Regions from separate parts of the Homo sapiens genome. Here all the other regions are linked to region 1. Evidence: fine-mapped expression QTL. A gene starts in region 1. Each other region holds a variant in brackets. All regions are shown on one strand. Distances are from middle to middle. Region 1 holds the start of PATL2 (PAT1 homolog 2). Region 2 overlaps SPG11 (SPG11 vesicle trafficking associated, spatacsin). Region 3 overlaps PATL2 (PAT1 homolog 2). Region 4 overlaps PATL2 (PAT1 homolog 2).

Region 1 (2,749 bases):
ATAGTTGTATACATAATTTTCCCCCTCACTATTCAAAACATGTCATAAATGGTAAGTCCAAGAAAAATACAGGTATTCCCCCCCAAAGAAAACTGTAAAATCGACTTTTTTCTATCTGTACTGTTTTTTATTGGTTTTTAAATTGGTTTTCCAAGTGAGTAAATCAGAATCTATCTGTAATGGATTTTAAATTTAGTGTTTCTCTGTGATGTAGTAAACAAGAAACTAGAGGCAAAAATAGCCCTGTCCCTTGCTAAACTTCTAAGGCACTTTTCTAGTACAACTCAACACTAACATTTCAGGCCTTTAGTGCCTTATATGAGTTTTTAAAAGGGGGAAAAGGGAGGGAGCAAGAGTGTCTTAACTCATACATTTAGGCATAACAATTATTCTCATATTTTAGTTATTGAGAGGGCTGGTAGAAAAACTAGGTAAATAATATTAATAATTATAGCGCTTATTAAACACTACAGAACACTTACTATGTACCAGGCATTGTGGGAGGCTCTCTCTTGTGCATTATCTCATTTCATTAGGTCCATGGAGAGTATTGCATTTTCTTAGTTTAGGCATGGCCTCCACAATAAAGATTATCAAAAGCCTAAAAATATGTAAAAGAAACCTAGAAGTTATTTGTTGTGCTCCTTGGGGAAGCTAGGCAAATCCTTTCAACTGAAAACCATGGTGACTTCCAAGATCTCTGCCCCTCCCCATCGCCATGGTCCACTTCCTCTTCTCACTGTTCCTCTTAGAAAAGATCTGTGGACTCCACCACCACGAAATGGCGGCACCTTATTTATGGTCACTTTAGAGGGTAGGTTTTCTTAATGGGTCTGCCTGTCATGTTTAACGTCCTTGGCTGGGTCCAAGGCAGATGCAGTCCAAACTCTCACTAAAATTGCCGAGCCCTTTGTCTTCCAGTGTCTAAAATATTAATGTCAATGGAATCAGGCCAGAGTTTGAATTCTAGTCTCTTAGCCTTTGTTTCCCCTGTCCATAAAATGAATGGGGGTAATTCTTTCCTCCTACAGTTTATTTATATATTCACTAATTCATTCATTCATCCATCCATTCGTTCATTCGGTTTACTGAGTACCTACTATGTGCCAGCCCCTGTTCTAGGGTGGAAACTAAGAGAATGATGTACCTAGAGGGCGCTGGAAGCTCTAAAGCCCTAGCAGTTACTGCTTTTACTATTAGTGGTCGTTTTTTTCTCCCCCCCGCCCCCCGACAAATCAACAGAACAAAGAAAATTACCTAAACAGCAAGGACATAGGGAGGAACTTCTTGGCACAGAACTTTCCAAACACTTTTTCCTGAAGGGATACAAGAAGCAAGAAAGGTACTCTTTCACTAGGACCTTCTCTGAGCTGTCCTCAGGATGCTTTTGGGACTATTTTTCTTACCCAGAGAATGGAGAAACCCTGCAGGGAATTCCCAAGCTGTAGTTATAAACAGAAGTTCTCCTTCTGCTAGGTAGCATTCAAAGATCTTAATCTTCTGGGTTTCCGTTTTCTCGAATGAAAAATGCAGGTCCGAGCAGTTAACTGGCTGGGGCACCATTAGCAAGTCACTTAGCATCTCTGGGGCCAGTCTGCAAAGCGAGGGGGCAGCCTTAATGTGCCTCCAGCCTGAAGTCCTAGAATGAGCGCCCGGTGTCCCAAGCTGGGGCGCGCACCCCAGATCGGAGGGCGCCGATGTACAGACAGCAAACTCACCCAGTCTAGTGCATGCCTTCTTAAACATCACGAGACTCTAAGAAAAGGAAACTGAAAACGGGAAAGTCCCTCTCTCTAACCTGGCACTGCGTCGCTGGCTTGGAGACAGGTGACGGTCCCTGCGGGCCTTGTCCTGATTGGCTGGGCACGCGTTTAATATAAGTGGAGGCGTCGCGCTGGCGGGCATTCCTGAAGCTGACAGCATTCGGGCCGAGATGTCTCGCTCCGTGGCCTTAGCTGTGCTCGCGCTACTCTCTCTTTCTGGCCTGGAGGCTATCCAGCGTGAGTCTCTCCTACCCTCCCGCTCTGGTCCTTCCTCTCCCGCTCTGCACCCTCTGTGGCCCTCGCTGTGCTCTCTCGCTCCGTGACTTCCCTTCTCCAAGTTCTCCTTGGTGGCCCGCCGTGGGGCTAGTCCAGGGCTGGATCTCGGGGAAGCGGCGGGGTGGCCTGGGAGTGGGGAAGGGGGTGCGCACCCGGGACGCGCGCTACTTGCCCCTTTCGGCGGGGAGCAGGGGAGACCTTTGGCCTACGGCGACGGGAGGGTCGGGACAAAGTTTAGGGCGTCGATAAGCGTCAGAGCGCCGAGGTTGGGGGAGGGTTTCTCTTCCGCTCTTTCGCGGGGCCTCTGGCTCCCCCAGCGCAGCTGGAGTGGGGGACGGGTAGGCTCGTCCCAAAGGCGCGGCGCTGAGGTTTGTGAACGCGTGGAGGGGCGCTTGGGGTCTGGGGGAGGCGTCGCCCGGGTAAGCCTGTCTGCTGCGGCTCTGCTTCCCTTAGACTGGAGAGCTGTGGACTTCGTCTAGGCGCCCGCTAAGTTCGCATGTCCTAGCACCTCTGGGTCTATGTGGGGCCACACCGTGGGGAGGAAACAGCACGCGACGTTTGTAGAATGCTTGGCTGTGATACAAAGCGGTTTCGAATAATTAACTTATTTGTTCCCATCACATGTCACTTTTAAAAAATTATAAGAACTACCCGTTATTGACATCTTTCTGTGTGCCAAGGACTTTATGTGCTTTGCGTCATTTAATTTT
Region 2 (2,500 bases), 110 kb before region 1:
GATGATCCTTTAAGTTCAGAAAGGCAATAGCCAATAACCCTATAGTTGTAAAGTCTTTAAATAACTGCAAAAGGAGCTTTTAAATTCATTCACAAAAGGTCATTATGCAATAAAATCCCTTTTAACATATTTATATGAGTCCTCTGTTCACCAAAGCCAACTCACTGTACCTTTCTCCAACAGGCAATTTTTTTTTTTTTTTTTTTTGGACACAGGGTCTTGCTGTTGCCCAGGCTGGAGTGCAGTGGCATGACCATAGCTCACTGCAGCCTTGACTTCCTTAACTCAAGCAATCCTCTTGCCTCAGCCTCCTGTAGCACTGTAGGCACACACAACTATGCCTGGCTAATTTTAACATTTTTCTTTCACCTTCTTGACCCTTATCTTCTATACCCGGCTAATTTTTTGTAGAGACAGTGTCTTGCTATGTTGTCCAAGCTGGTCTTGAATTCCTCGCCTCAAGCAATCCTTCCACCTCAGCTTCCTGAGTGTTAGGATTACAGGCATGAGCCACTGCACCTGGCCTCCAACAGGTAATTTTAGAACATTTTTCCCTCTACACTAATTACCCTCCTATAACCTCCATTTGTTATCACTTACTTTCTGATGTTGTATTCATAGAGCATGAATATCTTAGAAAGATGGCACCATCCTTCTATTAATAAGACCAGCAGAATAGCTCAGTTTAAAGTTCCTCTAAACCCAAGAAAATATCAAACAAAAATGTCTTTTTTTAGATAAATTTGAAGTCAGAAGATATTTTGATATGAGTCTAGTCATCTCTTGGTATCCATGGGGGATTGGTTCCTGAAACCCTTGGATACCAAAATCCACAGAAGGATGCTCAAGTCCCTGTAAAATAGCATAGTATTTATATATAGCCTATGCACATTTCCCCATACACTTTAGATTACTCTAGATCACTTATAATACCCAATAAATGTAAATGCCATGTAGATAGTTGTTATACTGTATTTTTAAATTGGTATTATTTTTAATTGTTCTATTGTTTTTCTTTTTTTTAAATTGTTTGTTTGTTCTTTTGAATATTTCCCATCTGAGGTTGGTTGAATCCTTGGATGTGGATCCCAAGGATATGGAGGGCTGACTCCAGTTAGAAAGAAATAGTCACTCCTGTCACGTACTATTCAATTGTCTCTTAACCACTTACTACCTATTTTTTAAAAAAGACAACACTGTGATCTGGTTCCAGAAACTAGTTCTGGAAAACAGTGTACCTGCTCTTGTTTTCAAAGTTCAAAGCTTATTTCTGAAATAAAGTTGTGTTTTCTCATGGAATTCCAAGGACTTTTCACATTGTGACCTGATTCCTAAAAAAAAAAAAAAGGCTTGAAGACCCTGGAGGTATCTGTCATCTTACAAAGGTCTTACCTGAAAGTACATTCCCTCTTTGAGATTAAAAAAACTGTCACATGCCCTATTTGTATTCTTGTGAGAACAGAGCGACTTTGACAACTTGTAATTACATATAAAGCCATTCATTAGATATTTGCTGAG[C/T]GTTTGTAAGGCACACAGTACTGAAATGAGCACATTTGAGTTTTTTATTCAAATAAGACCATAATTTTTTAGCACGTTGGGGCTTAGTGTGGAGACTGCGTATAAGAGAAAATTCATTCTAGAGGGAAATTTTACTCTGGCCTGGTGCAGAAGCCAAGTCACCACACAGTGTTCTTACATCCCTGTTCAGTGGTAAAACCATAAGAAAAAAGAAGTCAACATTCAAATTAAATACAGGTTTCCAATTTTATAAATATGTATTGGTTGGGTGCGGTGGCTCACGCCTGTAATCCCAGCACTTTGGGAGGCCGAGGTGGGTGGATCACGAGGTCAGGAGATCGAGACCATCCTGGCTAACACGGTGAAACCCCACCTCTACTAAAAATACAAAAAATTAGCCAGGCGTGGTGGTGGGTACCTGTAATCCTAGTTACTCGGGAGGCTGAGGCAGGAGAATGGCATGAACCCGGGAGGCACAACTTGCAGCGAGCCGAGATCGAGATCGTGCCACTGCACTCCAGCCTGGGCGGAACAAGACTCCATCTCCAAAAAAAAAAAAAAAAAAAAAAAAAAAAAGTATTACATTTTCATAACAGTTTCATTTACTTTGTGCTTTATTTCCTCAAGTATGTTTTAAACTTCTAAAAACAGCAGGGAACATGCTTTCAACTTCTCTGTGCCTCTACTCTACCTGGCAGAGTGCTCAATTTCCAAGAGTTAGAATGCCAGGTCAAGATGCCACCTAAGTGATGGAGTTGGAGCCATCACAAGAGGAGAGGGTATTTTGTCTACTCTCTAGTAACTTCACTGAGAAAGAGTATTTCTATTTGATAATGCAATAAGCACTACTTTTTTCAGCACTCAACAAATATTTACTGAACATCTACTGTAGGCTTGGCATGCATTGGACTCTGGGCACGAGGTAAATTCTATATATCAAAATTCGAACTTATAAAACACATACATTAAGAAATTCATTTTT
Region 3 (2,749 bases), 31 kb before region 1:
ATGTTAAGTTCAAGCCAAGCCTATGTTAGGCTTGGGGTAAACAGTGAATAAAGCAGATGCTTCCCACAGCCTGTTAGAGCTTCTTCTAGAATAAGAAGTACACACAGGTACACAGGATTGTTGGGTCAGATTTTAAAAAGACATTAGAGTGGCTCATACCTGTAATCCCAGCACTTTGGGAAGCTGAGGCAGGAGGATAGCTTGAGCCCATGAGTTCAAGACAAGCCTGGACAACATAGTGAGACCCCATCTCTATTAAAAATTTTTTCTTAAAGAAAAAAAATGACATTAGAAATATTTACATTTGCTACATAAAACACTCTTTTATGGGGAGATTTTTTATCCATTGTTTCAGGTTCTTTAATAGCAGTAGATCTAGTCTGGCTTTCAATTTCTTCTTGAGTTTTAAGTTATATATCTTCTAGGAATTTGTCCATTACTTATAAATTTTCAAATTTGTTGGCATAAAGTTGTTCATAGTATAAGTGTATTTAAAAATCCATGCTATAACTGTACTTTGTCTCTCCTGCCCCCTTTCATTTACTTGTTTATTTTGAGACAGAGTCTTGCCTGTCACTCAGGCTGGAGTGCATTGGCACGATCTCAACTCACTGCAACCTCCACCTCCTGTGTTCAAGCAATTCTCCTGCCTCAGCCTCCAGAGTAGCTGAGAATACAGGTGCACACCACCATGCCTGGCCAATTAATTTTTTTTTTTTTTTGAGACAGAGTCTTGCTCTGTCAGCCAGGCTGGAGTGCAGTGGCACCATCTCGGCTCACTGCAACCTCTGCCTCCTGGGATCAAGCAATTGTCCTGCCTCAGCCTCCTGAATAGCTGGGATTACAGGGGTGTGCCATGCCCGGCTAATTTTTGTATTTTTAGTATAGAAGGGGTTTCACCATGTTGGCCAGTCTGGTCTTGAACTCCTGACCTCAGCTAATCCACTTACCTCGGCCTCCCAAAGTGCTGGGATTACAGGCGTGAGCCACCGTGCCTGGCCAATTTTTTTTTTCTTTTTCTTTTTCTTTTTTTTTTTTTTTTTTTTAGTAGAGATAGGCTTTTGCCATGTTGGCCAGGCTGGTCTCAAACTCCTGGCTTCAAGTGATCCACCTGCCTCGGCCTCCAGAGTGCTAGGATTACAGGCGTGAGCCACTGCGTCCGGCCCTTTGTCTCCCTTTTTATTCCTAATATTATTCATCTCCTCCTTTGTTCTTCTTTCTAGAGTTTG[T/C]CTATTTTATTAGTCTTTTTAAAGAACCATGTATGTCAGGTTTCCTTCAGGAAATAGATGGTGTATTCAAACTGGATAATCTAATAAAGTTATATTTATAAAAGTATAGAAAGAGTATAGTGAAACCACAAGTAATAGCAGAATCCCCTGGGACTGGGACAAGAGGATGGAGCAGTCACCAGAACCTGGAGACAGAGAGGGCTGCCTGGCTTCAGATAATGTCAGCATCTGTGCTGTATGAGTTCCAGTGTGGCAGCCCTCTCCTAAATTACCCCAATTCCCTCTGGATCTGGGATCTGCTCCCTCCTCTTGCCCCTGAGGTCTGGGGGTGGGAAAGGCTCCCCACTCTTGCTAGTTCCAGGGTGCTTCACTGGCCTTTATGAGTTTCCCTTCACCCTGTTCACACCTTGGTGAATATTCTCTTCCTGACATGCTCCTCAGTTACACCACTTGAATGTGCCATCTGCTTCTTGTCGGGACCATGACTGACACTGCTCCATCACCAGCCTGCTGAGCTGTTCTTTAATTTGTCCTTGTTTAGCTGCCTTTCCCATACATCCCTCATCAGTGATTCTAAAAAATAGGCATTGTCCTCCTCCAGTCTTCCATACAACTCCCATCTCTACTCTCAGCAGTCAACCTCACCTCTTATGTTATGGGGAAAATAGAGGCCATTGGGGCTGATCCACTTCAATTCATACTTGGAGGAAATTATACACAGCCACAGGCCCCCCACCTTGCACTTCCAGGTGGGGGGCTCTCCTCCTCTTCAAGTCCAGACTCTCTTCCTGGATGCTTGGCCCTTCAGCCACTTTTCTCTGTGTCTTGAGCCTCTCTGTTTTCCCCTTTCTTTTTCTTAGTGTATAGGATAGAAATATCAGGATGTGTCCACTTCTTGGAGACAAATCCCTGTCTTGTTTTTGTTTCTTATTTTAACTGCCCTTCAGGTCTCTCCTACCTAACAAACCAAACTTCTCCATTTCCTCACATCATTCCTTCAACTGTTGCTTTCTGGCTTTTGACTCCATTATAGTGGTGGCAACAGGGACAAACAGACATAATCTCCATAAGCCCCTTCAACACTTTTTCTGGACAATTGACAATTATTTGACGTATTAGTTCTCTGCAAATGCAGGGTCAAGACAAGTCCCCTACCCTTACTTCCACCTAGATGCCACCTATATAATTCTCGGGCTTGAAAAAGTATATCTGGAGCTAACATTACTAGTTACTCCGCAGAGACTTTTCTCAATACCATTACCAGTGATTTTTCTTTCTTTCTTTTTAGTTTTAGAGATGGGGTCTCGCTCTTTCACCCAGACTGGAGTGCAGTGGCACGATTATAGCTCACTGCAAACTTGAACTTCTGGACTCCTGCCTCAACCTTCCAAGTAGCTGGGACTACGGCATACACCACCACACCCAGCTAATTTTTAAAATTTTTATAGAGATGGCGTCTCGCTTTTTTGCCCAGACTGGTCTCAAACTCCTGGGCTCAAGTCGTCCTCCCACCTTGGCCT
Region 4 (2,749 bases), 44 kb before region 1:
CATCATTCTATTATCTCTTTAATTATACCTTATTATGCCATGTCTTATTTTTAGGCACATCATTTAGATTTTTGAAGAAAGGATATGAAAATGGGGAAGGGTTCTCCAATATATAAAGGCATAAGAAATGTCTTCAGACTCTCTGGATCCCTGTAAACATAGTCTATGTAGCTAGTGTCTGATGATTCAACTTCCCACATACACGTATTCCAGAACAAACAGATCAGTAAATCCAGGCAAACCTATAAAGAGAACAGATATTAACTGCAAGCACAATTCTACTTTGCAAGTATTTATATGATTTAATTAGTATCTGACTCTTTCTAGCAGTAATTCTGAGGACAGAGATGACCATGTTATTCATGCTTATATCCTAGAATAGTTGTCCCTCAAGTATTTCTTGAATGAATAATTCAGGTTCTTAAATTAATTCTTGCCCTCAAATAGGTTAGCACTATAAATGACCAAAGCACCTGGAATAAAAGGTTGGCTGAAGACTTAGTCAAGAATGGTTACTCAGTAAATGTCAGTGTGTAGAACCACTTCTAAAAACACATGATCCTTCATGCTCATAATTTAGAAGAAGGAAGTAGTGAAGCAAGTAACAGAACATAGATTGGGCTTGAACAAGGGGCTTTGACCTTGTTTCTGCCATTACTTACTCCATCCTGGCCTCCAGCTGCTGAACCAATTGTTTGTCCACGTGGTGACAGAACAGGGGAAGTAGGTTGCTGGGGAAAGCTAGGGGTTCTGCCAGAGAGGCTGTAGGCATTTGGGCTATCTCCCAGGCAATCAGAACCACCATGTCTGTCCTAGAGAGCATAAATATAAATATAAGCAAATAGATTTGCTTAAGAAACAGACTCAGGGCCAAGGTTTCTTATTATCTTTCCGTTACTACTACCATTGTCCCCCACCCCCAGGTAGCAATTCAGAGGTAACATTTGCATGTTTGGTACGTGCCAAGCAATGCTTAGTGCTTTACACATTTCCCTTCCTATTTAATCTTAAGAACTATGAGGGGTTAATACCATCATCCCTAGTTTGTAGATAAAGAAACAAACTAAGAGAAGTGAGAAGTGAAAGAACTTGCCCTAAAGTTATATTGCTAGTAAGTGATACAGCCAGAATTCAAACGTAGGTCTTTTTAAAATCTAAAGCTTGTCCCCTTAGGTACTATGTTATACTGCCTCCTAGAAGAAAC[C/T]GAAACTCTAGGGCACTATAGAAAAAAAGCAGAACAGCTACAACACTGCTACTACTTTCTCTATCCAACCTCTTCCTCAGTACTTGAAAATGCCTCAGGAAATACTTCACCTGGCTCAGTCTGCACATCCCGAGGGTACTAGATAGTATTTACAAGGCCTTTATGATCTTACCAAGCTGTATGGTCACTGTTGGGTTCCTCTAGGGAAGAATGCAGCGATACCAGTTGCTCCCCATGGCTCAGCAGGGCATAGAGCAAAGATATTCCAAACTGCAAGGGACATATATATATTCCAGAGCAAAATGAGTTCACACTCGGCATTTGGTGCTTTCCTGACTCTTATCTTCCCAACTAAAGGACAGGTTCACATTTAGAGATAGAGCTCAAAATATCCACAAGTGCTGTCAGGTTTTACACTGGTGAGCCAAAGAACTCTCTAACCCTTTCCATAGGAATCACTGCTCTGAACTTTTCCAAAAGACACTCTTGGAGAGCTGATTAAATGCATACTTCTAGGCTTAACTCCTAGGAGTAGGAGATCGGGAATGCATCCAGGAATCTGAGGCAGGTAGTCTGTGGACCCCACTTTAAGAGGCACTTCTTTAAGCAAAGACCTTCAGTATGGCATACATGAGATAACCCACTGGGATATTAGAAGAGAGCATCAAAATTTTCACATCTAGAGTCTCATTCTTTAAAATTTTCTGTCTTTTATTATATACCTATTGGCTGGGCGCAGTGGCTCATGCCTGTAATTCCAGCACTTTGGGAGGCCGAGGCAGGCGAATCACTTAAAGTTAGGAGTTCAAGACCAGCCTGGCCAACATGGTGAAACCATGTCTCTACTAAAAATACAAAAATTAGCTGGGTGTGTTGGCGAACACTTGTAATCCCAGCTACTTGGGAGGCTGAGGCAGGAGAATGGCGTGAACCCAGGAGGCAGAGCTTGCAGTGAGCCAAGATCGTGCCACTGTACTCCAGCCTGGGTGACAGAGCGAGACTATCTAAAAAATAAAAAAAGAAAATATTTATTATGTACCTATTATTACTAGTGTTACATGTATTTGATTTATAAACACATGGGTAGTGTGGTTTAGAATATTTTTTTACTGAAAGGGGTATACAAGAGTTTGGAGACCTGCTTTAGAGACTCACATCAGCAGCAATCAGGGAGCTTATTAGAAAAGCAGAGCAGGTGCATGGGCCCCACCCCAGACCTACTGAATGACTGAGTGGGACCAAGGAGCTGGGTTTAATAAGCTTCCAGGTGATCATGTGCTTACTAGAAATAGAGAAGCACTGCAGAGGATAAGATTTGTGTAGAGATGAGACTGTCCCCCAACTTACCCCTTATCAGTGATACCAACCTGAAAGCCATCTATGGAAAAAAGCCTCCTAGACATGTTACCTGATTCTGAAGCACCACGGTGACTGGCCGCTCTGAGGAGCCAGGTGGCAACAGCGTTAATCCCTGAAGTCCTTGGAGGAGTTCGTGGAGGGTCAAGTGACTAATACATTTGCCCAGAGGTTTGAATAACATTTGTA

What was found.
Region 2: its variant is fine-mapped to the expression of PATL2 in whole blood (INTERVAL, PIP above 0.99).
Region 3: its variant is fine-mapped to the expression of PATL2 in whole blood (TOPMed, PIP 0.94).
Region 4: its variant is fine-mapped to the expression of PATL2 in whole blood (TOPMed, PIP above 0.99).

What each region holds. Positions count from the first base shown.
Region 1 is chr15:44,709,614-44,712,362 of GRCh38, forward strand. It overlaps PATL2 (PAT1 homolog 2), which reads right to left and starts at 1,710. Exons shown (of 18, transcript NM_001387263.1): 1 at 1,407-1,710; 2 at 1,258-1,316; 3 at 483-601. It overlaps B2M (beta-2-microglobulin), which reads left to right and starts at 1,904. Exons shown (of 4, transcript NM_004048.4): 1 at 1,904-2,000. The coding sequence starts at 1,934. RefSeq lists an enhancer at 1,725-2,387.
Region 2 is chr15:44,602,867-44,605,366 of GRCh38, forward strand. The region is part of intron 20 of SPG11 (SPG11 vesicle trafficking associated, spatacsin); the gene reads right to left. Among named protein-coding and RNA genes, the nearest start is that of SPG11, 60 kb to the right of the region's middle. The variant C/T (reference allele first, on the strand shown) is at 1,519.
Region 3 is chr15:44,678,527-44,681,275 of GRCh38, forward strand. The region is part of intron 3 of PATL2 (PAT1 homolog 2); the gene reads right to left. Among named protein-coding and RNA genes, the nearest start is that of SPG11, 16 kb to the left of the region's middle. The variant T/C (reference allele first, on the strand shown) is at 1,230.
Region 4 is chr15:44,665,730-44,668,478 of GRCh38, forward strand. It overlaps PATL2 (PAT1 homolog 2), which reads right to left. Exons shown (of 18, transcript NM_001387263.1): 15 at 2,613-2,749; 16 at 1,377-1,474; 17 at 663-812; 18 at 3-242. The coding sequence ends at 224. Among named protein-coding and RNA genes, the nearest start is that of SPG11, 3.4 kb to the left of the region's middle. RefSeq lists an enhancer at 1,260-1,359. The variant C/T (reference allele first, on the strand shown) is at 1,205.